5 separate regions of the Homo sapiens genome follow, and all the other regions are linked to region 3. The links come from fine-mapping of genetic effects on gene expression. A gene starts in region 3. Each other region holds a variant in brackets. All regions are shown on one strand. Distances are between the middles of the regions.

Region 1 (5,163 bases), 82 kb before region 3:
TAACATTAGCTTTCTCCTTTTTCTTCTTTTTTGAGATAGGGTCTCGCTCTGTTGCCCAGGCTGGAGTGCAGTGGCACGATCTTGGCTTGCTGCAACCTCCACCTCCCAGATTCGAGCGATTCTCCTGCCTCAGCCTCCCGAGTAGGTGGGATTACAGGGGTGCACCACAGCACCTGGCTAATTTTTGTATTTTTAGTAGAGATGAGGTTTCACTATGTTGGCCAGGCTGGTCTCGAATTCCTGACCTCAAGTGATCTGCCCACCTTGGCCTCCCAAAGTGCTGGGATTACAGGCGTGAGCCACCTCACCCGGCCAACTTTCCATCCAACGTGTGCTCTCCCTGAGCACACTGGGGCATGCAGAGTGTCCAAGCTCCCTTCGATAAAAACAGTCCCAGCCAATACAACACAGCCATGGGAATGATCTACAGTGACACAGCAACAGTGACACCTCCCAAGGTAACATCAAGCCGGTGAGGCCAGAGACAAGAGATGACACACCGTAGGTACACATCCCGTGTGTCCTCTCTTTATACAGAGCACAGAAACAAGAAACTCCAGTCCATATGGTTAGATGTCAGTATGCTGTCAGCCTGGGGTGGGGGTGGGTATGGGCATGGACCAGAAGCGGGCATGAGGGGGCTGCTCAGTGCTGATAATGTTGGTTGCTCAGTCTGGTGAGGCTTAAATAGATACACTCAGTTTGTGAAAAATTTAGTGAACCACTTAGGCACCCCTTTCTGTAATATAAATTATACTTCAATAAAGGTTTGTGCCAACACTACATTTTGGGAGGCCGAAACAGGAGGGTCCCCTGAGCCCAGAAGTTCAAGACCAGCCTGAACAACATAGGGAGACCCTGTCTCTACAAAAAATAAAACAAATTTGAAAAGTTGCCAGGCATGGTGGTGCACATTTGTGGTCCCAGCTACTTGGGAGGCTGAGGCAGGAGGATCACTTGAGCCCAGGAGCTTGAGGTTTCAGGGAGCCATGATCACACCACTGCACTCCAGGCTGGGTGACAGGTGTCTCATTTAAAGAAAAAAAAAATTGTAAAAGTCACCTCAATAAAAAAATGCTGACCGGGCATGGTGGCTCACACCTGTAATCCCAGCACCTTGGGAGGCCAAAGTAGGAGGATCACCTGAGGTCAGGAGTTCGAGACCAGCCTGACCAACATGGCGAAACCCCGTCTCTACTAAAAATACAAAAATTAGCTGGGCGTGGTGGTGTGCTCCCGTAATCCCAGCTTCCTGGGAGGCTGAGGCAGGAAAATAGCTTGAACTCGGGAGGCGGAGGTTGCAGTGAGCTGAGATCATGCCACCGCACTACAGCCTGGGTGACAGAGTGAGACTCCATCTCGAAAAAAAAGAAAAGAGAATAAAAATGCTGACTTTTCCAGAAACAAGGGGTCTACCTATATCTCTGAATTCCAAAAATTGTCTAAACTATTTCCCTGCTTTTCTGTTTTTAATTTTTAAAAACATTTTTAGCCAAGATCTCACTTGGTTACCCAGGCTAGAGTGCAGTGGCACAATCATGGCTCACTGCAGCCTCAACCTCCCAGGCTCAAGCAATCCTCCCACCTCAGCCTCCCAAGTAGCTGGGACCACAGATGTGCACCAGCACGCCAGGCTAATTTTTGTATTTTTGGTAGAGATATGGTCTCATTATGTTGCCCAGGCTGGTCTCAAACTCCTGGGCGATCTGCCTGCCTCGGCCTCCCAAAGTGCTGGGATCACAGACATGAGCCGCTGCACCTGGCCTCTACTCTATCTTGCCAGATTCATTATTTTAGGCTTCCTTGAAAAACTTTTTTGGGGTGTGGGGGACAGGGTCTTGCTCTGTTGCACATGCTAGGGTGCAGTAGAACAATCACGGCTCACTGCAGTCTTGACCCTGTGCATAAGCGACCCTCCTGCCTCAGCCTCCCAAGATGCTGGGATTACAGGCATGAGTCACCTTGCCCAGGCAGATTATCTTGAAATTCTAATGCAGATTTACAGTTCAGTCCTGTATGTGCATAGGGGAATTATGTGTGTGTTCTTGGCTCTTCGAGGAATTCCAGAAATACCCATTGCAGGTTGAAGCCACAGTGAGAAATCCGGAGTGTTAGGACAATAGCAGGAAACTCATCTGCATGGGAAGAAATGTGGGTAAACAAGCCTTTGAAGACCCTGGGGGTCCTAATGACCTCTGCACTCTTGCTGGAAATCCAAAGGCCGGGACTACCCCTCCCTCAGCTGGAGCCTCATCAGCAGGTGCCCAGGATCAGGCCCTCGCAGGTGAGGCACAGGAGGAACCTTCTAGAAAACACTGCACAGGTGAAAAGGAAACTATCACTCCCCGTCATTCTCACACCAGACCAGGGCTGAGCTCTTGACACCTTTATTGGAAGGATCCTCAAGGCTGTGGGCACCGAGGTCTGGAGGCAACAGAAGCAGCATCCACCCACCCACCACAGTGGCAGAGCACACCCCGTGCAAAAACCCATCACAGAGAGAAGGACCATGGAGCCCCTGCAAAGCCATCATGGAGAGAAGGAAAGTCCCCACTGTCCATCAGCCCCGGCCAGGCCTGGTCCCTCAACCCCTGTAGAACCCCAAGCAGGCCGATGTGGGAGGCATCACCACACGTGGGTTCCAACTGCTTCTCCAAACCCTGTGGTCTCACATGAGGCAGGGAGGAAATTTGAAAATGGCAGCAGCCTGGGCACGGAGGCTCCTGCCCATAATCCCACCACTTTGGAAGGCCAAGGTGGGTGGATCACTTGAGCCCAGGAGTTTGAGATCAGTCTGGACAACATAGTGAGACCCCATCTCGACATTTTTT[T/A]AAATATTTTTAAAATATAAAATAAACAGCAATACAAAGAAAAAACCCCCAAGCTGCAGTGTGTACACAATGTCACTTTCCAGCGTTCCTGATGGGAAGACCACAAAGCTCACAAAGGCCGAGGGCAGGTGCGGGGGTGGTGCTGTGCTTCCCCGGCGTCCACAGGAAAATAGTCCTCCGTCCTATACAGTGTGGGCAGCTCGTACGTCACGGGCACCGGTGCAGGTGACTTCTGGAATGACAAGAAATGAAGCTCTATCAGCGATTTGGATCCACTTGTTCCATGACCCAGGAATTCCCGGTCTACAAGTTCATCCTGCAGGACTCACACATATGACCAAAGACTCTGAGCTCCTCTGACAGCACTGCCTGTGACAGCCAAAGCCGGCCACCCAAAGGGACCAAGGCATCCATGTCAGGCCCTCTCCACAATGGAATACTCTGTAGGCATCAAGAAGAGCCAGGCAGCCCAGGCGCAGTGGCTCATGACTGTAATCCCAGCACTTTGGGAGGCCAAGGCAGGCGGATCACTTGAGGTCAAGAGTTTGAGGCCAGCCTGGCCAACACAGTCAAAGCCTGTCTCTACTAAAAATACAGAAATTAGCCGGGCATGGTAGCGCGCACCTGTAATCCCAGCTACTTGGGAGGCGGAGGCAGGAGAATCACTTGAACCCGGGAGGCGGAGGTTGCAGCGAGCTGGGATTGTGCCACTGCACTCCACCTAGAAAACAGAGTGAGACAATGTCTCGGGGAAGAAAAAAGAAAAAGCCAGGCAGATCAATATGTTCTGGCAGAGGAGGACTAAGAAAGCAAGGTGAGAAGGGTAGACATGTGACAAAGGGACCTATACCGACACGTGACAGCTCTGCAGGGCCATCTCAGAGCCTGGGTACAGTGGCTGTGGTTGGTGGCATGACTGATTTTTTTTTTTCTTTTGAGACGGAGTCTCGCTCTGTCACCCAGCCTGGAGTACAGTGGTGCCATCTTGGCTCACTGCAACATTCACCTCCTGGGTTCAAGCAATTCTCCTGCCTCAGTCTCCTGAGTTAACCGGGATTATAGGCGTGCACCACCACGCCCGGCTAATTTTTTTTCTTTTTTTTTTTTTTTTTTTTAGTAGAGATGAGGTTTTGCCATGTTGGTCAGGCTAGTCTCAAATTCCTGGCCTCCGGTGACTCGCCCGCCTCGGCCTCCCAAAGTGCTAGGATGACAGGCGTGAGCCACCGCGCCCGGCCAGGACTGATTTTTCTTCCACTGTGTACCCATCTGTGCTGCCTGGAGTTCCTGCCATAGGCATGTGCTACTCTTTCAAAAAACAAAACCATTTTAAGAAGTGCTTCCTCGTTTCTGGTGAGGATTTTTGTGGAGGGAGGCGGAGAAGGGGAGATTTCCCATCGAGCCGCTCACTGTGCGCTGGCTGGCGGGCTCCTGCAGGCTGCTGAGCATCTCCAGGAAAAACCAGGTCACCAAGAACCACCTGGAATGACGGCTGTCAAACCTGGCCATGCGCTGGAATCTCCTGGGAGTTTTATGAACTACTGATGCCCGGGGCCCACGCCAGGGGGTCAGATGTCTCTACTCGGGGGCGTGGCCTGGGTGTGGGACATTTCACAGCTCCCAGGTGATTCTCATGCAGAGTCCAGGTTGTAAGGACCACGGCCTGCACCAGAAGAAGGAGAGGGCTCCCGGGCTACTGCTCCTGGTTGGAGCCGGTGGAGATGAGCAAGGATGCATGGTCAAGGAGGACAGAGGGAGGGGACCTTCTCACCACCCCCTAACCCTGTCCCCCAGCTCCCTGCACTGTCTCGTCTCCTGGCCACCTCTGCCCACTCTGGCTGAGACCCAGTTCTGGCTACAGCTGAAAGCTGCGTGTCAGTACAGGGATGTGGGCTCCAGACTATGGCCAATGACAGCTTCCCCACTGCCAGACACCTCTGCAGGCCCCTCCCCATGCTGCCTGCTCCCCTTCCCTCCCCTCCCCCTGCACTTGACACCATGACCCCAGTGCAGAGGGGGAGATCAAGACTCAGGAGTTGCCCTGCCCCAAGTCACACATCCTCCAAGCATCTGTCCACCAGCCGGCAACTCACAGTGCACCAGGCCAGCCCTGTCCTGTGCACTGAGGACACAGCTGTGAACAAGACAACCATCCCAGCCCTCATGGGGCATGGCACTTAGTGGGGACACAAATGAACCAGGAGAAACAATGCCACCCTATGATGCGGGCTGATGGCAGGACAGGCACAAAGGCCTGGGGAACCCAGATGGGGCCTCAGCTCATCCTAGAGGGTTGGGGGAGTTTCCGGGTGCTGAGCCGTGTAGGACCTTCACA
Region 2 (5,000 bases), 32 kb before region 3:
GCCAAGATCAAGCCATTGCACTCCAGCCTGGGTGACAGAGTGAAACTCCATCTCAAAAAAGAAAAAAAATAAAATTCTGGGGAGCAACTGAATCTCCTGGGGGAAGCCTTTCAAATGCTGATTCCCAGCCTCTCCTAGTTTGAGAATCCGCACTTTCAGCCAACAGTCTGAGGCAACGTTGGAATAGGAATCTGGGGACCACTGTTAGAGAAACACCAGTGGGCACAGCAGGAGCTGGACTAAGGAGTCAGGCTAGTGTTTAAATTTAGCTCTACCCACCATGAGCTCTGTGACCTTGGGCAACTCACTGCACCTCTCTGAGCCCTCCTTTGCTCACTGGGACAGTGGTGCAAGACGATGGTCCTTCTTTCGCTGGGATACTGAGGATGAGCTGTTTAGCACAATGCTGGCGTGGAGTGTGGAGGCGGCTTCTGATGTGCCCCCCGTGGTCTCACCCTCCTGGTATCCTCACCCTCATGTAATCCCCTCCCCAAGATTTTGGGCTGAGCCTAGTGACTCACTTTTGTTTGTTTTTTGAGACTGAATCTGGCTCTGTTGCCCAGGCTGGAGTGCAGTGGCACAATCTCAGCTCACTGTAACCTCCGCCTCCCAGGTCCAGGCGATTCTCCTGCCTCAGCCTCCCGAGTAGCTGGGACCACAGGCACGCACCACCATGCCTGCGTAGTTTTTGTATTTTAGTAGAGACGGGGTTTCACCACGTTGGCCAGGTTGGTCTTGAACTCCTGACCTCAAGTGATCCACCTGCCTTGGCCTCCCAAAGATCTGGGATTACAGGCATGAGTCAGCACTCCTGGCCCCAGATTTTTATTTAAAATTTTTTTTTGAAAACTATACCTGTTTTTCCTCCTCTTTCTGCCTAAGTACATCAGACTTCTTGTGGTTATCGTGAAAATCTGCTCCCACCACTGTTCAGGATAACATTTCCCCCTTGCCCTCGGTTTCCCGAGACCTTTGCCCCATTGCCCTGTACGTCTAAAACCAAACTCCTCCATGCCTCTCCCCACGCCTAGCCCTCCTCTGGTCACAGCACTGCCATCTCTCTGGGCACCTAGCTCTAGGTGTCCAGTGTCCTCAGGGATACTCGTTTTTCACGCTCTGATCCCACAAGGTCAAAAATCGGCCCTGAGAGGGTGGCATGTGGTGTCAGGCTGCCCAGCCTAAGCCCCTGCTCCACTGTTCTCCACTATGACACCAGGCTGGTCCCCTAGCCTCCCTGGGCCTCGGTTTCCTCATCTCATATTTTGAAAAAAAAAAAAAATTTTTGAAGGCCGGGCACAGTGGCTTACACCTGTAATCCCAGCAGTTCGGGAGGCCAAGGTGGGCAGATCACCTGAGGTGAGGAGTTCAAGACTAGCCACAGCCAAAATGGAGAAACCCTGTCTCTACTAAAAATACAAAAGTTAGCTGGGCATGGTGGCGTGCGCCTGTAGTCCCAGCTACTCGGGAGGCTGAGGCAGGAGAATCGCTTAAACCCGGTAAACAGAGGTTGCAGTGAGCCAAGATGGCGCCACTGCACTCCAGCCCGGGCGACAGTGCAAGACCCTGTCTCTAAAACAAATAAAAATTCAAGTGGGGCTCCCATGAGAAATGGCTGGTTCTAGGACTGAGCTGAGTCTGGAGCATCTTGTAGCACCAGAAAGCAAGAAAGTGTTCCACAAAATAAAGGATGAGATGGGGCTTACCCAAGGGACACAGAAGCCAACCTGCAAGAGTGAAATGGCCAAAGCTGGGACAAGCTGAGCAACAAAAAATTAACATAGTATTAGATCAAAGCTCCAAGTACAAAGTAAATGTGCACAAACCTAATATGTGCAGAGGATTGAATGGGTCTGGAAAGGGGGAAATGGCAAATTCCACTGGAGAAAGCC[G/A]CAGGCACCACCTTATGCAGGCTCACATCCGTGATGCCATGTGGGCATCGGGGACCCTCTGATGGGATGTGATAAGAAGGCTCCTCCTCTGTGGTGATCGTTCCATAAATTCCTATCTCCAGTCTAACCACATGAAAAACATCACAAAAATCGAGGGACCTTCTACGAAACACCTGACCAGCATGTCTCAAAACTGCACAAGTGATGAAAAGCAAGGTAAGACTGAAACTGTCACAGACCGGAATAGACTAAGGAGATGTGACAACCTCGTGCCATGTGGCACCTTAGACTGGATCCTGGAACAGAAAGAGGACACTCATGAGAAACTGGTGACATCAAAACAAAGCGTGGAGTTCAGTGAATAGCAACATACCAATGCTGGTTTCTTCGTTTTTTTTGTTTGTTTGTTTGTTTGTTTTTGGTGGGGGGTCGTGGGTTGTTTTTTGTTTTTTTGTTTTTTTATAGGGTCTTGCTTTGTCACCCAGGCTGGAGTGCAGTGGTGTGATCATGACTTGTTGCAGCCTCGACCTCCTGGGCTCAAACAATTCTCCAGCCTCAGCCTCTTGAATAGCTGGGACTACAGCTGTCCACCACCATGCCCAGCTAATTGTTTATCTTTTGTAGAGACAGGGTTTCACTGTGATGTCCAGGCTGGTCTTGGACTCCTGGCCTCAAGCTATCCTCCTGCCTCAATCCAAAGTGCTGGGTTTACAGGCGTCAGCCATTGTGCCTGGCCCCTTAGTACTGACAAATGTACCATGGTGATGTGAGATGTTAACAATGGAGGCCAGGAGCTCAAGACCAGCCTGGGCAACATAGCGAGGCACCATCTCTATTAAAAAATTAAAAATGTATTTAAAAAAACTTTAGGGTTAATATGGCAACTCTCTGAACAATCTTTGCAATTTTCCTGTAAATCTAAACTATTCCAAAATAAAAAATACATAAATATGGTTTTAAAAATTCAAGTAATTAGGTCTGGATCTACAGCTTCTCTTAAGTCAGCAGCTTTGGCAATGATGGGCCTGAGTCTCCCCGGGCAGCAAAGGCTGGGACTGCTCCCTCCAGATGGGCCTGATCACTGGGGTTTCCACAGTCATCACCCCTCCCCATTGTCTCACCCCAGCTCCACGCTCTGCCTGGCTCCAGCATTTGTTACCAGTGACAGGGAAAGGTCCTCAGTCTCCTCCCTTTCTTCCCCAAGGCCAGATTTCTAGAGAGAAGCTCATTCCTCAACAAGGCTAAACTTGGAGAAAATCACCCTGATGTAGCAAAGAGCAGATAATTAATTCCAGGGCAAGGTCAGAGCACCGGGGAACAAACTTGAATCGTATCCTTCTGTTAATTTCTAAAGAAACAAATCGGGGGAGTGAGAATGAGCTTGGGGGTATGGGCTGGGATTGGCAACCTACAGCAGACAGAGAAAGTGGTAGAAAGGAGACTCAAGGACCACCCTCGCCCCCTAAATCCCAAAGAATTGGGAATAAAGAAGTCTCTTTTTTTCCCCCTTATTTTTGTTTATTTAGTTTTGTTTTTGTTCTTGTTTTTTTGAGACAAGTCTCACTCTCTCTCCCAGGCTGGAGTACAGTGGCACCATCTCTGCTCACTGCAACCTCTGCCTCCTAGGTTCAAGTGATTCTCTTGCCTCAGCCTCCCGAGTAGCTGGGATTACAAGCACCTGCCACCATGCCTGGCTAATTTTTGTATTTTTAGTAGAGATGGGGTTTCACCATGTTGGCCAGGCTGGTCTTGAACTCCTGACCTCAAGTGATCCTCCCACCTTGGCTTCCCAAAGTGCTGGAATTACAGGCATGAGCCACTGCTCCTAGCCTGTTTCTTATTTTATTTTTAGAGAAATCCCTTCTCTGATGCAGCTTCTCCAATGGCTGAAACTGAAGGCAACAGGGAACTGTTTATATCTGCCCAGAGGTTTACCGTAGTTACTCAGAATGAGGGGCCAGGGAAGGCAATCCTAGGGGCTGAAAGGCCCCAAACCTTACCTCTTGGTTCCACCCTGGGCTGGGAACCATAAAAGAAACTTTAGGGCCAGGTGCGGTGGCTCACACCTGTAATCCCAATTCTTTGAGAGGCCGAGGTGAGAGGGTCACTTGAGGCCAGGAGTTCAAGACCAGTCTGGGCAACACAGTGAGGCACCATCTCTATTTTAAAAATTAAAAATTTATTAAAGGAAAAAACAGAACTGTAGGGTTAATGTAGGTCCAGTCTAGAGGGGCACGATACCAACAGAGCACACTCCATGAACTCTCACCATGTGCTGGGAACAGGCCCTGTGAGGCAAGAACTATTTCCTCTTCAACCTTATTTTATGGGAGATAAAACCGAGGCTCAGAGAAACTAAATGAGCTGGCCCAAGGTCACAAAGCTAAAAAGTGGGAGAGGGAGGAGTCTAATCCAGATGGGCCTGAGACCACCCTTCCTAACACCAGAGGTCTACAGATGTCATTCATCGGGCAAAGGCAGTGTCAGCCCAATCATGCCTAAAAAAAACAAAAAAAGTAAAACCAAACCAGATGCCAAGATATCAAAGTCAGGATATTTCCCTTAGAAACCCAGATCTCTGACTTCTTGTGAAAAATCAGGAGACCTGGACACACTGAGCCAAGACCTGGCCACACTGAGCCCATGTTCCACATGGCAACAATCAGCTGGAGCTGAGTGGCAGCTGCCACTTTTGTTAACCCCAGTCCCCATCACTCCCTACAGTCTCCCCAACATGGAATCCATAGCTACCCAGAGGAGCACTTTCTTCTTATGGAGGACTCAAAAGGAAAGTGACACATTTCTCATCTCCAACTCACTTCTCATTACATTACAGGTGTTTACATTTGCACGCCTTGGGCTACGCTCTGAGAAGAGCAAACAGATTTCAGTGAAAAAGCCTCCATGCTCTAGAGCCTCTCCCAGGACAAACACCCAACCAGGTGTGCTAGCCTGGAGGCCCCAGACCCTTCCCCCAACTATCCTCCCACCTCTCCAGACCTGGTCTCCAGAACCCAGAAGTCTGGGCAGCAGGTTCTGAGGTCACCACAGAGGAAAGTCATCTGTCCAGAATGATTCAGGCCCCTAGGAAGGAGAGCCAAAGGCATTTGA
Region 3 (5,169 bases):
ATAGATGGGCCAGGCATGGTGGTACATGCCTATAATCCCAGCACTTTGGGAGGCTGAGGCCAAAGGATCTCTTGGGCCCAGGAATTCAAGACCCGCCTGGGCAACATAGTGAGATCTCGTCTCCACAAAATAACTTTGTTTTAAAAGTTAACCTGACATGGTGGTGCGCACCTGTGGTCCTGGCTATGCGGGAGGCTGAGGTGGGAGGATCACTTGAGCCCAGGAGGTTGAGGCTACATTGAGCTATGATTGTGTCACTGCACTCCAGCCTGGGTGACAAAGTGAAACCCTGTCAAAAAAAAAAAAATTAAAAACGTCTGTTCAAAAATTATTTTAAAAATATGTGGAGATGGCTGGGCGCTGTGGCTTACGCCTGTAATCCCAACACTTTGGGAGGCCGAGGAGGGTGGATCACGAGGTCAAGAGATAGAGATCATCCTGGCCAACATGGTGAAACCCCGTCTCTACTGAAAAATACAAAAATTAGCTGAGCATGGTGGCACACGCCTGTAGTCCCAGCTACTCGGGAGGCTGAGGCAGGAGAATTCCTTGAACCTGGGAGGCGGAGGTTGCAGTGAGCTGAGATCATGCCAATGCACTCCAGCCTGGTGACAGAGCAAGACTCCATCTCAAAAAAAAAAAAAAAAAAAAAAAAAATATATATATATATATATATATATATATATATATATGGAGAAAAAGAAAAAGAAAAAAGAGAAAACTCATATATATGTATATATATATATATGGAAAGATATTTTATGGTTTTTTTTTTTGAGAGGGAGTTTTGCTCTTGTTGCCCAGGCTGGAATGCAATGGCTGATCTCAGCTCACTGCAGCCTCCGCCTCCCAGGTTCAAGCGATCCTCCTGCCTCAGCCTCCCAAGTAGCTGGGATTACACACCCGGCTAATTTTTGTATTTTTAGTAGAGACGGGGTTTCACCATGTTGGTCAGGCTGGTCTCGAGCTCCTGACCTCAGGTGATCCACCCGTCTCGGCCTCCCAGTAGTGCTGGGATTACAAGCGTGAGCCACCAGGCCTGGCGAGATAGATTTTTTTTTAAATGTCTCACTCTGTCGCCCAGGCTGGAGTGCAGTGGCATGATCAAGCCTCACTGCAGCCTCACTCTTCCCCGTCCCCTATCCCCATCCCAAGCAATCCTCCTGCCTCAGCCTCCCAGAATGCTGGGACCACTGGCATGAGCCAATACTCTGCCTAGGCAGATACAGATATCTACATTTGTAAATGCATTTTAAATGTCCGGAATGATTTATACCAAACAGTTAATGCTGGTTTTCTAAGAAAACTAGAATTGGGGTGGGAGAGAAAAGAGAAAGGGGTGCATAGCCTTTATGTTAAATACTCCTGTACTGCTTTTGTGGTTTAAAAAGAGAATGGGTTGAATTTCTGACCGTAAATAACTCCTAGTGAACTCAGACAAATAACTTTTTCACAACAGCGTCGACAGATGCCTCCAGCCGGAAGGTAGAGGGTCTCGTTTTAGATCTGCTTTTCACTTGGTGCTTTTAAAATAGAAAGCGCAGACAGAGGCGTGGTGTTTTCGCTCCGAGCTGCAGCAGCGCAGCGCGGCCCGCACAGCCGCAGCCTGAGGCGCCGCTCGGCCCGGGCACCGCTCGGAGGTAGCCGGGGCAGCAGAGGTCCCGGGGTCCGCCTCTCCCAGGGCCGGCCTGGCAAAGGGCGGCGCCTGAGGACCCGGCGGATGCTGGGGGACCCGGGTGGGGAGGGAAAGCGAGCCTGGGCCTCCGGGGCCCGGTGTCGCCCGGAGGAGCGAGCAGGGACGACCCGCTGCACATCTCTGCGTGGCGCCCCGCAGCCACCCTTCAGGAAGGGGGGAATCCCCGGGCCCCCCACTCCGGGAGCGAGAGGATGCTCCGGGGAAGCCGAGGGTCCGGAGCCCGGACCCCTAACCGCGAGAACCCTCTCCTCCAACTCCACAGCCCCGTCCCCTACCTCGGCCCCAGGCTCGGGGGTCAGGAAGAGCGCGAGCTCGCGCGCCCCGCTGCGCATGGGCTCCGGCTGATCAGCGTCCACGAGCAGCATCAGGAGGGCGACGGGGTCCGGCTGGCGGAGGCTGCCTGGGAGCCCGTGGTTGCGCCCGGGCCTCGGAGCCCCGCCCCCGGTCCGCTGCATGCCCCGCGGACCGCCTGGCGGAGGCGGGGCAGGTGCGCTCCCGGCGGTCGCGGCTCGCAGCTCCAGGAGCGCCGGGCCGAGCGGGCAGCGCCACCCAGTGGCGAGCGGCGCGCGCTGCGCCCGCCCCCGCAGCACCTGGGCATCAGTGCTTTGCAAACTCGCTTGCAGATGGCAGTCACCTGGAGCTCTTTTAGAATTTCCCAAGCCTGGACCACACCGTCTCTGGGTTAAGACCTGGGCATCAGGATCTTTTGATGTTTGTTAGGTGGTTCCAACCAGATTGTTGACCCAAAGCTAAATTTGAGAACTATTGGGGCAAGCCACCCCTCCCCATCGGAATCCCGGTAGAGTACAGGCTCCCGGCCCCGGACCCGGCCGTAAAATAGAATCCCCGGGAAGCTTTTAAAAGCCCGGAAGCCAGGCCTCGCACCAGGCCGATTAAGTTGGAATCCTTCGGAGTGGGGCTTGGGCATCGGTAGTTTCTAAAACTCCCCGGGTGATTCTAACGGGCGTCCGGGTTAGAGAGGCGCTAGCTTAGAGGAAGCCCAAAGCCGCCCGCCCCCCACCCGTTCCCATCCTACTAAAGCATCTAGTTTGCATCGGGCGGAGGGTCCTGGAATTTAGGGAAGGCCGAGTGTGACGGTCCTCGTCTTCCTCTTCGGTGCGGATTTTAAAATAAACTTCACCAGGAAACTATTGAGCGCACTACATTTCACAACCGCACCCACTCCCTCCATGCCCTCGGAGGCCGGCCTAGATAGACCCTTTACAAGCCTTGGGGCTGAAGAGAGCGAGGTGCGCCTCATCTCCCACCCCAACAGTGCTAATGAGGAAAGTACTAAAAGGCAAATAGGTATAAGACAAGTCTGAAGTTTTGATTTTTCGTTTGATGACTTATTTTTATTTTTAATTAATTAATTTTTTTTTTTTGGAGACGGAGTCTCGCTCTGTCGCCCAGGCTGGAGTGCAGTGGTGCGATTTCGGCTCACTGTAACTTCCACATTCCGGGTTCAAGCAATTCTCCCCCTCCCTCAGCCTCCCGAGTAGCTGGGATTACAGGCGCCTGTCACCACGCCCGACTAATTCTAATTTTTGTATTTTTTAGTAGAGACGGGGTTTCGCCATGTTGGCCAGGCTGCTCTCGAACTCCTGACCTCAGGTGAGCCACCTGCCTCGGCCTCCCAAAGTGCTAGGATTACAGGCGTGGGCCAGCGCCCCCTGCCTGCTGACTTTTCTTTAAATGTTAAATCGCCTCACAAAAAAAAAAAAAAAAAAAGGCTGAGCTGCTTGGGCAAACATAAGGAGACTCCATCTCTCTAAAAGAAAAAAAAAAATTAAAATTGCAGGATGTGGTGGGGCACAACTGTAGTCCTAGCTACTGGAGAGGCAGATGCAGGAGGATTGTTTGAGGCCAGGAGTTCAAGGCTACCGCGAGTTATGATCGCACCACTGCACTCCAGCCTGTGTGACACAGTGAAACTCTGTCTTTTGTTGTTGTTGTTGTTTTTTAAAAAGGAGGGGCTGGTATCAAGGGTGCAAATAAATATATAGGACGTCCCACACCTTCCTCTCCATTAAATCTGAATTTATATTGTAGTTGGCCACCCTAGGTAGGGGCCTAAACAACACATGTTTGACCTGCCTTTTGTGTAGTCCATCACTGCACAATTCCCACTTCCAAATCTGTCCACTGCTAATTTCTCCCTATCCAAATATCCAGGCCTTCAGGCCAGTCATTTTCTGGAAAATTCTTGGCAAAGACTTGGGCCTCAAGTGCTTAAGGGTTTTATAGGAACTCACTGAGCCCACACTCGGCCATTCGTCATTGTCATGATTTCCCTGATGCTCTGAGCCCTCCTCGCCATCCCCTGGGAGCCGGTCTCAGACCCTTGCCCTTGCCTGCTGGCTAGGCATCTCCCACAAAGAGCCCAGGACTGGCCTCAGATCACCAAATTGACCTGAGCACAGCAAACTTCTCCTGGTGGATAAATCTCAGAAACATAAAGCTAAGGAAGAAAAGTCGTGTTGCAGAAGGCTCTGTAGGGCACTGTGCCATTAGCACAGTTTTTAAAACACGCAGAACCACACTGTATATTGTTTATGGACACCGACAGATGGAGCAAAAGTACAAAGCTGTGCATGGGAACGACGTACCCCATGTTCCAAAAGTGGTTACTTTAGGGCGGGGGAGAAGAAACTGGAGAGGGGTATGGGAGGGAGGGATTTCTTTTTCTTTTCTTTCTTTCTTTCTTTTTTTTGTTTTTTGACAGAGTCTTGCTTTGTTGCCCAGGCTGGAGTGCAGTGGCACAATCTCGGCTCACTGCAAGCTCTGCCTCCCGGGTTCAAGCGATTCTCCTACCTCAGCCTCCCCAGTAGCTGGGATTACAGGAACAAGCACCACCAAGCCTGGCTAATTTTTGTATTTTTAGTAGAGACAGGGTTTCAACATGTTGGCCAGGCCAGTCTCCAATTCCTGGTTTCAAGTGACCCACCAGTCTCGGCCTCCCAAAGTGCTGGGATTACAGGAGTGAGGCACTGCACCCAGCCCAAGAGGGATTTAATATATATATATTTTTTGAGACAGAGTCTCGCTCTGTCGCCCAGGCTGGAGTGCAGTGGCACGATCTCAGCTCACTGCAACCTCTACCTTCCAGGTTCAAGTGATCCTCCTGCCTCAGCCTCCTAAGTAGCTGGGATTACAAGCACATGCCACTACGCCTAATATTTTTTTTTTTTTTGAGACGGAGTCTCTGTAGCCCGGGCTGGTGTGCAGTGGCGCAATCTCGGCTCACTGCAACCTCCTTCTCCAGGGTTCAAGTGATTCTCCTGCCTCAGCCTCCCAAGTAGCTGGAATTACAGGTGCCCACCACCACGCCTGGCTAATTTTTGCATTTTTAGTAGAGACGGGGTTTCACCATGTTGGCCAGGCCGGTCTCGAACTCCCGACCTCAGGTGATCTGCCCGCCTCAGCCTCCCAAAGTGCTGGGATTACAGGCATGAGCCACCGCACCCAGCTAC
Region 4 (5,000 bases), 24 kb before region 3:
GGTCTCCTTGCGCAGAATGCCCATGTGGATGACGGGATGGGATTTGAAAACAAAGGTGTCCCTGGAGCATCCATCCACACCATCCTCCCGACCTGCCTTCCCTGCCCGCAACCACGATCCTTCACCCAGTGCCCAGCCATACCACATCCCTGGCCTCCCCGCCTTTGCACAGGCTGGTCCCTCTGCCTGAATGCACTCCTTCCCCATCTGTTGAATTCTCTATTTCTCCTTACAGCCCCAGATTCATCACCACCTGTTATACGAAGCCTTCCCAATTTCCTAGGCAGGACTTAGCACCCCTGGCTCTGGAATCCCTTCACACCTTGACCTTACCTTGACAACAGCACTGTAGCATGGGACGGCACCAACTGATACCCAAATCAGTCTCCCCACATACACTGGGGCTTGATGGGAATGGAGATGGACTGAACTCTCTTTGCATACTCAAGTTTATGACGGGGCCCATTCATGAGAAAGTGCCCAATGCAGCCGGGCATGGTGGCTCACGCCTATAATCAATCCCAGCACTTTGGGAGGCCGAGGCGGGAGGATCACTTAAGGCCAGCAGTTCAAGACCAGCCTGGTCAACATGCTGTCTCTACTAAAAATACAAAAATTAGCCAGGCATGGTGGTGCATGCTTGTAATCCCAGCTACTCAGGAGGCTGAGGCAGGAGAATCACTTGAACCCGGGAGGCAGAGGTTGCAGTGAGCCGAGATTGCATCACGGCACTCCAGCCTGGGGGACAGAGCGAGACTCTATCTCGAAAGGAAGGAAGAAAGGAAGGAAGGAAGGGAGGGACGGAGGGAAAGACGGAAAGACAGAAAGACGGAAAGACAGAAAGACAAAGACAGAAAGAGAAAGAAAGAGTCCAATGCGTGGTGGTAAAGAAAGGACAATCCAGGCTGTTAAAAGCCTGTCTTGTTACCTAGCTCCCACCTGGACCCACATCTGAACGTAAAAATTGACTCAAGAGAAGAAACCATATAGGTCCTCTTGGGATTTCTGCTGTGACCCTAGAGGCTGGGCCGAGGTCCGCTGAATAGGTAGGGATGACTCAGTGCCTGCTGTCTAGGGTGGCTTTGTGCCGGGCACAAAGAAAGGCGTTCAATGAACATCTGGGGCTGCTGTTACTGTTACTCCCTTGGGTTCTCACAAACACTCTCAGGGTCCGGACACGGTGCTTCTCAGGGACATAAACGCACACCACTGGGCCCAGGTGGCCAGGCTTCCTCCACTCTGGGGAGACACAGGGCCTGGTCACAATATGGAGCTCTACCCTTTGGGCCTCCAGGCAGACACCTCAAGCCCAGGTTACTGGTTTGCCTCTAATAAGCTTGGGAGCTTCTAGAAAATTCTATCAGCACTCCTGGGGGCTCCACACCTGGCTGGCAGCAATCCTAGGAACACTGGGATCTAGAAGCAATTTCTTTTTCTTTTCTTTTTTTTTTGAGACACAATCTTGATCTATCACCCAGGCTGGAGTGCAGTGGCGCAATCTCAGCTCACTGCAACCTCCACCTTCCGGGTTCAAGCAATTCTCCTGCCTCAGCCTCCTGAGTAGCTAAGATTACAGGCGCCTGCCACCACACCCGGCTAATTTTTGTATTTTTGGTAGAGGCAGGGTTTCACCATGTTGGTCAGGCTGGTCTTGAACTCCTGACCTCAAGTGATCTGCCCGCTTTGGCCTCCCAAAGTGCTGGGATTACAGGTGTGAGCCACTGCACCCAGCCTCTAGAGGCGATTTCTAGAGACTCTGGCGTGGGAGGCTTTGTCTTCTGGGCCATTGTCTTCCATCTTCCTCCTCAGCCAGGCTAGTAGATTTGGGCCAACCAGACAGAGTAGGAGGTAAAAGCAGAGAGAACAGAAGGATTCAGGAAGGAACTCGATGCCCAACTCCACCACGGGCTGTGGCCTGGGCAAGAGGCTCCTCCTAGGCCTCGCAGGCCTGAAGCCATTTCCTGGCTGTCTCCATGTTTGCACAGGGGACGGTGCAGAGCTGAGGAAAGTTAAATATAGTCTAGCGTCCCCGCTGAACGGCTCCCTGCATCGGTGCCCGAGAGTGCCACCTTGTGGTCCACTCCTGGCTCCTCTGCGGAATAAAAACCATCTCGAGGGAAGGACGAGATCAAGATGGCCGCCTCAGGAAGCACTTGGGGTTGAGTGAGAGAGAGAGAGCGAGAGAGAGAGAGAGGAGGGAGTGTTTGCACGTGGCTTTCCTCTCAGCGCTGGCCGCTGCCCCATTCCTCCTGGTTGCTAACTCACCACCAAAATGGCTTCCGCAGAAAACTCCAGCAAGGGCCTGAAGTCTGGCCTGGGCCTAAACCCACGCCTTCCAGGCAGCCACTCACCAGGTCAGCCAGGCTGCAAAACTCTTCCAGCCTGAGGAGCATGCCCTCGATGGTCTCCTCCACCTCCTTCGCCTGAAAAAGAGACGATATCCTGGAGATTAGCAAGTGGTTTCCAGGGAGACAAACACCCTTCATTTTTTTTTTTTTTTTAAAGCAAACTAAGTCTTAGGATTATGTGCCCGGTTCCTGCTCGACCCCCTTCCACTGCCTCCTTTGAAAGAGCAATAAACAGGCAGCAGTCCTGGCGCCCATCACGGAGGACTGGTTAAAGCCACCAC[G/A]GCCTCTCCATTCTATGCAGCTTTCAAAAGAGACAAGATCAACAAATACAGGAAATAACAAAGCTACCCGTATCCTCCACGTTGTACAGATGAGGACACGGAGGCTCAGAGAGGTGGGGTAACCTGCTCAAGATCACACAGTTAACAAACAGCGGGGCAAGGATCCTAATCCAGATGGAGTCCACAACCTCACAGCCTGCTCTAATAAACACAGTGGCCCCGGTGATACCCCGGAGAGGAAAAGCAAGCTGCAGACGGTGTCAGATACAAACCATACCAAAAAAAATGTGTGAGGCGGGCGGATCACCTGAGGTCAGGAGTTTGAGACCAGCCTGACCAACATGGCAGAACCCCGTCTCTACTCAAAATACAAAAATTAGCCGGGCATGGTGGCGTGTGCCTGTAGTCACAGCTACTCCGAGGCTGAGGCAGGAGAATCGCTTGAACCTAGGAGGCGGAGGCTGCAGTGAGCCAAGATTGCACCACTGCACTCTAGCCTGGGCAACAGAGCGAGACTCCGTCTCAAAAAAAAGTACATGTCTTCACAGAGAAAGGCCTGGAATGATATGTGCCAGACTGCTAATAGTTAAGAGATGTGCTTATACTTAAAAAATTTGTTGTTTATCTGAAATTCAAATTCAACCGGGCATCCCATAGTTTCTTTGGAAACCCTATTAACAGGGCTTACTTAGCCCTGGGCAGGAGGAGTTGGGAAAGGGACTCTGACAAGGGAAACTTGAATTTTTTATGTTATGTAAAGGGTCCATGGCCGGGAGCAGTGGCTTATGCCTGTAATCCCAACATTTTGGGAGGCCGAGGCAGGAAGATCACTTAAGTCCAGGAATTCGAGACCAGTCTGGGCAACATGGTGAGACTCCATCCCTTTAAAAAAAAAAAAAAATTAGCCCAGGTGCACTGGCTCACGCCTGTAATCCCAGCACTTTGGGAGGCTGAGGCGGGCAGATCACGAGGTCAGGAGATCGACACCATTCTGGACAATGTGGTGACCCCATCTCTACTAAAAATACAAAAATTAGCCGGGTGTGGTGGCACACACCTGTAGTCCCAGCTACTCAGTAGGCTGAGGCAAGAGAATCGCTTGAACCCGGGAGGCGGAGGCTGCAGTGAGCCAAGGTCACACCACTGCACTCCAGCCTGGGCGACAGAGCGAGATTCCGTCTCAAAAAAAAAAAAAAAAAAAAAAAAAAAAAAATTAGCCAGGCATGGTGGTGCATGTCTGTAGTCCCAGCTACCCAGGAGGCTGAGGCTGCAGTAAGCAGTGATCGCACCACTGCACTCCAGGCTGGGCGACAGAGTGAGAACTTGTCTTTAAAAAAAGAAGAAGAAATAAAACCCAGTCATCAGGCTGGACATTAACATAAATGAGTGAAACAGGCCATCAGGCTTGTGATCTGAGAGGTGCTCATCCAGTCCTCCAGCTGCTGGCCACTAGCTGCCATCAGGAAATGCAGGCCCGGAGCTGCCAGATCTTTCCATTTTCCAAGAGAAGCCAGAAATCCTAATTTGATAGGAAATGCCCCAATGTTTAAACATTGGAACACATTTAAAAAACCCTTTAATGCTTCACAAATTAAGCCAATAACGAACGTGCAGAGGGCCTGCCAGTGTACAACTGCTTCATGCACTTGTGTAAAAATTAGGGAAATAATTAGCGGTTTGGCCAGGCGTAGTGGCTCACGCCTGTAATCCCAACACTTTGGGAGGCCAAGGTGGGCAGATCACCTGAGGTCAGGAGTTCGAGACCAGCCTGACCAACATGGCGAAACCCCGTCTCTACTAAAAATACAAAATTTAACCAGACGTGGTGGCACGCGTCTGTAGTCCCAGCTACTCAGGAGGCTGAGGCAGGAGGACTGCTTGAACCCAGAAGGAGGAGGTTGCGGTGAGCCAAGATTGTGCCACTGTACTCCAGCCTGGGAGACAGAGCAAGATCTGTCTTCAAAAACAAAAAAGAAAAATTAGGTTTTTTTTCCCCCTCAAGTTATCTACTACTTTTATGACTTCTAAAATACCAGTTTCTGTTGTTATTTTTGTAATGGCCAGCATTCAGGAAGAAAGTTCGCCAAGCACATGATCTGCTTTCCCTACCAGGCCACACCGTCCTGCTCCAGGGAGGCGTGCTCAGAGTTTCTGGGCAGGCCTAGTCCCTGCCCCCTGCACCTGAAGGCTCCCTCACCACCCACTTGTCCCCAGAGAACTGTTTATACAGCACCAGTTCCTGCTGCTTCCAGCATGAGCCATCTCCACCACAACAAAATAAACGACTGCACAAAAAAACATCTTTCAGGCTGGAGTATAAATAGTACCAAGTTGCAATTTTAAACTCTGCAACCTTCATCTCACAGCTGGG
Region 5 (5,171 bases), 73 kb after region 3:
GAGCTCAAGCGATCCTCCCTCCTCGGTCTCCCAAAATGCTGGCATTACAGGTATGAGCCACTGCATCCAGTTAGAGACTGGACGTTTTTATGTGAAACTTCTTGATTTTTAAATGTTGGCAACTAATCAAACAGGGTACAGTGAGTGAAATGAGTGGAGCAAGTGTGTGTGTGTGTGTGTTGTGTGTGTGCTTGTGTGTGTGCATCCATGCACGTGTACATGCCTTTGCTTAGACAGAGGCATGAGCCACTGTACCCGACCAGGCCTGGAGCTTGGAGTGAAGGAGAAGAATGGCTTAAAATGAGACTGAGGCCAGACATGGTGGCTTACGCCTATAATCCCAGCACTTTTGAGAGGCCGAGGAGGGCAGATCACTTGAGGTCAGGAGTTCGAGACCACCCTGGCCAACATGGTGAAACCCCATCTTTGCTAAAAATACAAAAATTAGCCGAGCGCGGTGGCACACACCTGTAATCCCAGCTTCTTGGGAGGCTGAGGTGGGAGGATTGCTTGAACCCGGGAGGTGGAGGTTGCAGTGAGCCGAGATTGTGCCACTGCACTCCAGCCTGGGTGACAGAGCAAGACTCCATCTCAAAAAAAAAAAAAAAAGAGAGAGAGAGAGACCGACCATGGCCAGATCATGCAGCCTCTTGCAGGCTATGACAAGGACATTGAATTTTATTCTGAGGTCATTGAGAAGCTATCTTGGAACAATTAGAAATAATTTTAAGATCTGTGGCATCTGAATCAGACCTAGATGATGGGAGAAAAGGAAGAGGTGTTCTGGGCAGGAGAATGGCAAGAACAAAGGTTTGAGCAGAGGTTGATCAAGGTGAGGACAGTGAGGCAGGCTGTTCACATGGAGGGATGTAAAGACAGTGGGAAGCCTTGGGAGATGACATTTGAATGGGGAGGCTGGCGCCATTTTATAGAGATCATCGAGGCAAGATCTTTAGTCTCTTCCAGATTTTATCTTGTAGGCCAGAGTGTCCCAAATGTGACTGAGGAAAAGAATTGTCTTGGGTGCTTATTAAAAATGCAGATTCCAAGCGCCTCTTCTGTGATCTCATGTCTGGTAGTCTGGAGCGGGGCCCAGGAAACCTATAATTATTATTATTTTTTGAGACAAGGTCTCACTCTGTCACCCAGGCTGGAGTGCAGTTGCACAATCACTACTCACTACAGTCTCGCCCTCCCAGGTTCAAGCAAGCCTCCTACCTCAGCCTCCTGAGTAGCTAGGACTACAGGTGTGCGCCTCCACACCGGGCTAATATTTTGTATTTTTTGTACAGATGGGGTTTCACCTTCTTGCCTAGGCTGGTCTCAAACCCGTGGGCTCAAGCAATCCACCTGCCTTGGCCTCCCAAAGTGTTAGAATTACAGACGTGAGCCACCACACCTAGCAGGGAACCTGTAATTTGGACTGTCATCCTGGTGATCCTTATCTCAAGCAACTTTAGGAAATACTGATGTAAGTATTCAGGTGTCATCGCAGGTTTTTGACCCGGGAGTCAGAAATTGGTGTGTTAAGACAGATTTGAGGAAAGAGAGCTGCAGGCAGGCCTGCATTTGAAGAGGCCCTTGGAAGAGGAACTTGCACAGAATGTGAAGGTCTGGACTTAGGCTGTGGAAGGGAACTGTATTTGTTTTTTGTGTGTGTTTTGTTTTGTTTTTGAGACAGAGTCTTGCTTTGTCGCACAAGCTGGAGTGCAGTGGCTTGATCTCAGCTCACTGGAACCTCTGCCTCCTGGGTTCAAGCAATTCTTGTGCCTCAGCCTCCTGAGTCGCTGGGATTACAGGCGTGCACCACCGCGCCTGACTAATTTTTGTATTTTTCGTAGAGAGAGTTTCACCATGTTGGCCAGGCTAGTCTCGAACTCCTGACCTCAAGTGATCTGCCTGCCTCGGCCCCGCAAAGTGCTGGGATTACAGACGTGAGCCACTGCGCCTGGCCAGGAAGTGTATTTGTTCACAAAGTACCACACGCTGGGTGGCTTAACACAACACAATTTTGCTGTCTCACAGTTCTGGAGGCCAGAAGTCTGAAATCTATGTATTGGCAAGGTTGGTTCCTTCTGGAGGCTCTGAGGGACAGGCTGTTCCGTGCCTCTCTCCCAGCCTCTGTG[G/T]CTGCCAGCAATCACTAGTGTTCCTTGACTGGCAGCCGAATCACTCTGAGCTCTGCCTCCATCATCACATGCATCACGTGGTGTTCTCTCTGTGTGTGTGTGTCTGTCTGTCTGTCTGTTTCTGTGTCTATTTTTATAAGGGCACCAGCGATTGGATTTAGGACTACTCTAATGACCTAATTTTAATTTTTTTTTTTTTTTTGAGGTGAAGTCTTGCTCTGTCGCCCAGGCTGGAATGCAGTGGCATGATCTCGGCTCACTGCAACCTCCACCTCCTGGGTTCAAGTGATTCTCCTGCCTCAGCCTCCTAAGTAGCTGGGACTGCAGGTGCTTGCTACCACACCCAGCTAAATTTTTGTGCTTTTAGTAGAGATGGGGTTTCGCCATGTTGGCCAGGCTGGTCTCGAACTCCTGACCTCAGGTGACCTACCCACCTTGGCCTCCCAAAGTGCTGGAATTACAGGTGTAAGCCACCATGCCAGGCCTGACCTCATTTTAGTTTTATTACATCTGCAAAGGCCCTATGTCCTAATAAGTTCTCACTCCCAGGTACTGGAGATTAAGACTTTAACCTATCTTTTTGGGGAACACAATTCAGTCTACAACAGGAACATACTGATGGAGTAATAATCAAAATTCTTCTATAATACTGATCACAGTGGCTGGGAACACTGTGCTATGCATTTCACAAGCGTTCCATCCTCACAACTATTTGGTGTTAATACACCATGTTTATATTGTTCAAAAAAAAGAAGAGCAGGCCGGGCACGGTGGCTCACGCCTGCAATCCCAGCACTTTGGGAGGCCAAGGCAGGCGGATCACGAGGTCAGGAGATCTAGACCATCCTGGCTAACACAGTGAAACCCCGTCTCCACTAAAAATACAAAACATTAGCTGGGCGTGGTGGCGGGCGCCTGCAGACCCAGCTACTCGGGAGGCTGAGGCAGGAGAATGGTGTGAACCCAGGAGGTGGAGCTTGTGGTGAGTCGAGATGGTGCCACTGTACTCCAGCCTGGGCAACAGAGCAAGACTCCATCTCAAAAAAAAAAAAAAAAAAAAAAGAAGAGCAGACTGAGTCTTGAAGAGGTGAGGCTTCCTGCTCAGAGCCTTGTCATCAAGGCAGAAACTTGTCCAGAAAGCACAGTTGAGGCAGGAGAAGGAAGAGGAAACAGAATAGTGAAATGCTTGGAGCAAGGACTCTGGAGTCATACTTGGGTTCAAGTCCTGATTCTGCCACTAGGGGAAGTGAGCTGGCCTTCCTGACTCAGTTTCTTCATCTGTAAAATGGGGATAATAATGGTACCTATTCCTTGGATTTTTCATAAGGATCCAATGAGATATTTTTAAGGGGTTTGATATAGTGCCTAGTATTATACATAGTAAGCTCTCAAAAAATTGTCACTATAATTCATATTATTCAACTATTTGGGTGTTTTTTTTTTTTTTTTTTTTTTAGAGACAGTCTCACTCTGTTGCCCAGACAGGAGTGCAGTGGCACAATCACAGCTCACTGCAGCCTTGACTTCCCAGGCCCAAGCGATCCTCTCACCTCAGCCCCCCAAAGTAGCTGGGACCCCAGGCATGTGCCACCATGTCCACCTAATTTTATTTATTTTTTTGTAGAGATGGAGTCTCACTATGTTGCCCAGGCTGGCCTCAGCTCCTGGGTTCAAGCGATCCACCTGCCTCTGCCTCCCACAGTGCTGGGATTACAGGCAGGAGCCACCACACCAGGCTCTTCAACTATTAAGAGACAGAGGAGGAGTGGACAGATAAGCAAAAACCATTGTGGGCATTCACGCAAGGGGAGGAGACTATTATCATCCCCATTTTAACCTTTAAGTTACGTGTCGCCTGAAAATTGAGGAAGAAGAAAAGTCTGAAGGATTTGTTGAAAAGCTCTTTGCCTGGCACTTAATAAATTCTCTTAATGGCTGTCCCGTGACTGGCCAGGACATGTATTTGGAACTTTGGGAAACAAGTCAGTGTAGTGATAGGAATAAAAGGCATATCATGGGCCCCTGCAGAGTGGATATTGAGGAAATGAGGACCATAGTTACAAATGGCAAGGAATCAACCATGGCTGGAGGCAGCCACGAATAGAAACAGAAAAGATGAAGGAGCATTAAAATGTGCAGGTGTTGGCCAGTCGTGGTGGCTCATACCTGTAATCCCAGCACTTTGGGAGGCTGAAGCAAGCAGATCACAAGGTCAGGAGTTCAAGACCAGCCTGGCCAATACAGTGAAACCCCGTCTGTACCAAAAATACAAAAAATTAGCCGGGCATGGTGGCAGGAGCCTGTAATCCCAGCTACTTGGGAGGCTGAGACAGGAGAATTATTTGAACCTGGGAGGTGGAGGTTGCAGTGAGCCAAGATCATGCCCGGGCGACAGTGGGAGACTCCGTCTAAAAAAAAAAAATGTGCAGGTGTTGTTTCTAAAGGTACATGTAGGCTGGGCTTGGTGGCTCATGCTTGTAATCCCAACACTTTGAGAGGCCAAAGTGGGAGGACTCCTTGAGCCTAGAGGTTCGAGACCAGCCTGGGCAACACAGTGAGACCCCATCTTAATTAATAAATAAAAAATTATTTTAAAATTAAAAACAGATAAATAAAATAAAGGTACATATACACTCTCATTTCATCTTTTTTTTTTTTTTTTTGAGATGGAGTCTAACTGTCACCCAGGCTGGAGTGCAGTAGTGCCATGTCGGCTCACTGCAACTCCCGCCTCCTAGGTTAAAGTGATTATTGTGCCTCAGCCTCCTGAGTAGCTGGGATTACAGGCACGTACCACCATGCCTAGCTAATTTTTATATTTTTTGGTAGAGACAGAGTTTCACTATGTTGGCCAGGCTGGTCTCGAACTCTTGACCTCAAGTGATCCGCCCACCTCGGCCTCCCAAAGTGCTGGGATTACAGGCACGAGCCACCACACCCGGCCTCTCATTTCATCTTAAGGTGATGGGCACATATCAGTTTGCTTGTGACTTTCCCAGTTATAGTCCTGAGAGTCCCAAGAAACCTTCCAGTCCCTTGTATACC

Evidence for each region.
Region 1: its variant is fine-mapped to the expression of BCAS4 in whole blood (TOPMed, PIP above 0.99).
Region 2: its variant is fine-mapped to the expression of BCAS4 in whole blood (INTERVAL, PIP above 0.99).
Region 4: its variant is fine-mapped to the expression of BCAS4 in whole blood (TOPMed, PIP above 0.99).
Region 5: its variant is fine-mapped to the expression of BCAS4 in whole blood (INTERVAL, PIP above 0.99).

The regions. Positions count from the first base shown.
Region 1 is chr20:50,874,386-50,879,548 of GRCh38, reverse strand. BCAS4 (breast carcinoma amplified sequence 4) reads right to left here. Exons shown (of 5, transcript NM_198799.4): 5 at 2,372-3,063. The coding sequence ends at 2,941. It overlaps LOC124904929 (a long non-coding RNA gene), which reads left to right and starts at 3,538. Exons shown (of 2, transcript XR_007067647.1): 1 at 3,538-5,163. RefSeq lists enhancers at 1-169, 2,828-3,408, 3,936-4,647. The variant T/A (reference allele first, on the strand shown) is at 2,832.
Region 2 is chr20:50,824,315-50,829,314 of GRCh38, reverse strand. All of the region lies in intron 2 of BCAS4 (breast carcinoma amplified sequence 4), which reads right to left. Among named protein-coding and RNA genes, the nearest start is that of BCAS4, 32 kb to the right of the region's middle. The variant G/A (reference allele first, on the strand shown) is at 1,890.
Region 3 is chr20:50,791,976-50,797,144 of GRCh38, reverse strand. BCAS4 (breast carcinoma amplified sequence 4) reads right to left here and starts at 2,084. Exons shown (of 5, transcript NM_198799.4): 1 at 1,972-2,084. The coding sequence starts at 2,061. RefSeq lists a silencer at 1,532-2,351.
Region 4 is chr20:50,815,634-50,820,633 of GRCh38, reverse strand. It overlaps BCAS4 (breast carcinoma amplified sequence 4), which reads right to left. Exons shown (of 5, transcript NM_198799.4): 2 at 2,352-2,423. Among named protein-coding and RNA genes, the nearest start is that of BCAS4, 23 kb to the right of the region's middle. RefSeq lists enhancers at 1-278, 1,262-1,311, 1,799-1,848, 1,859-1,908. The variant G/A (reference allele first, on the strand shown) is at 2,630.
Region 5 is chr20:50,718,975-50,724,145 of GRCh38, reverse strand. No RefSeq gene overlaps it. Among named protein-coding and RNA genes, the nearest start is that of PARD6B, 10 kb to the left of the region's middle. The variant G/T (reference allele first, on the strand shown) is at 2,127.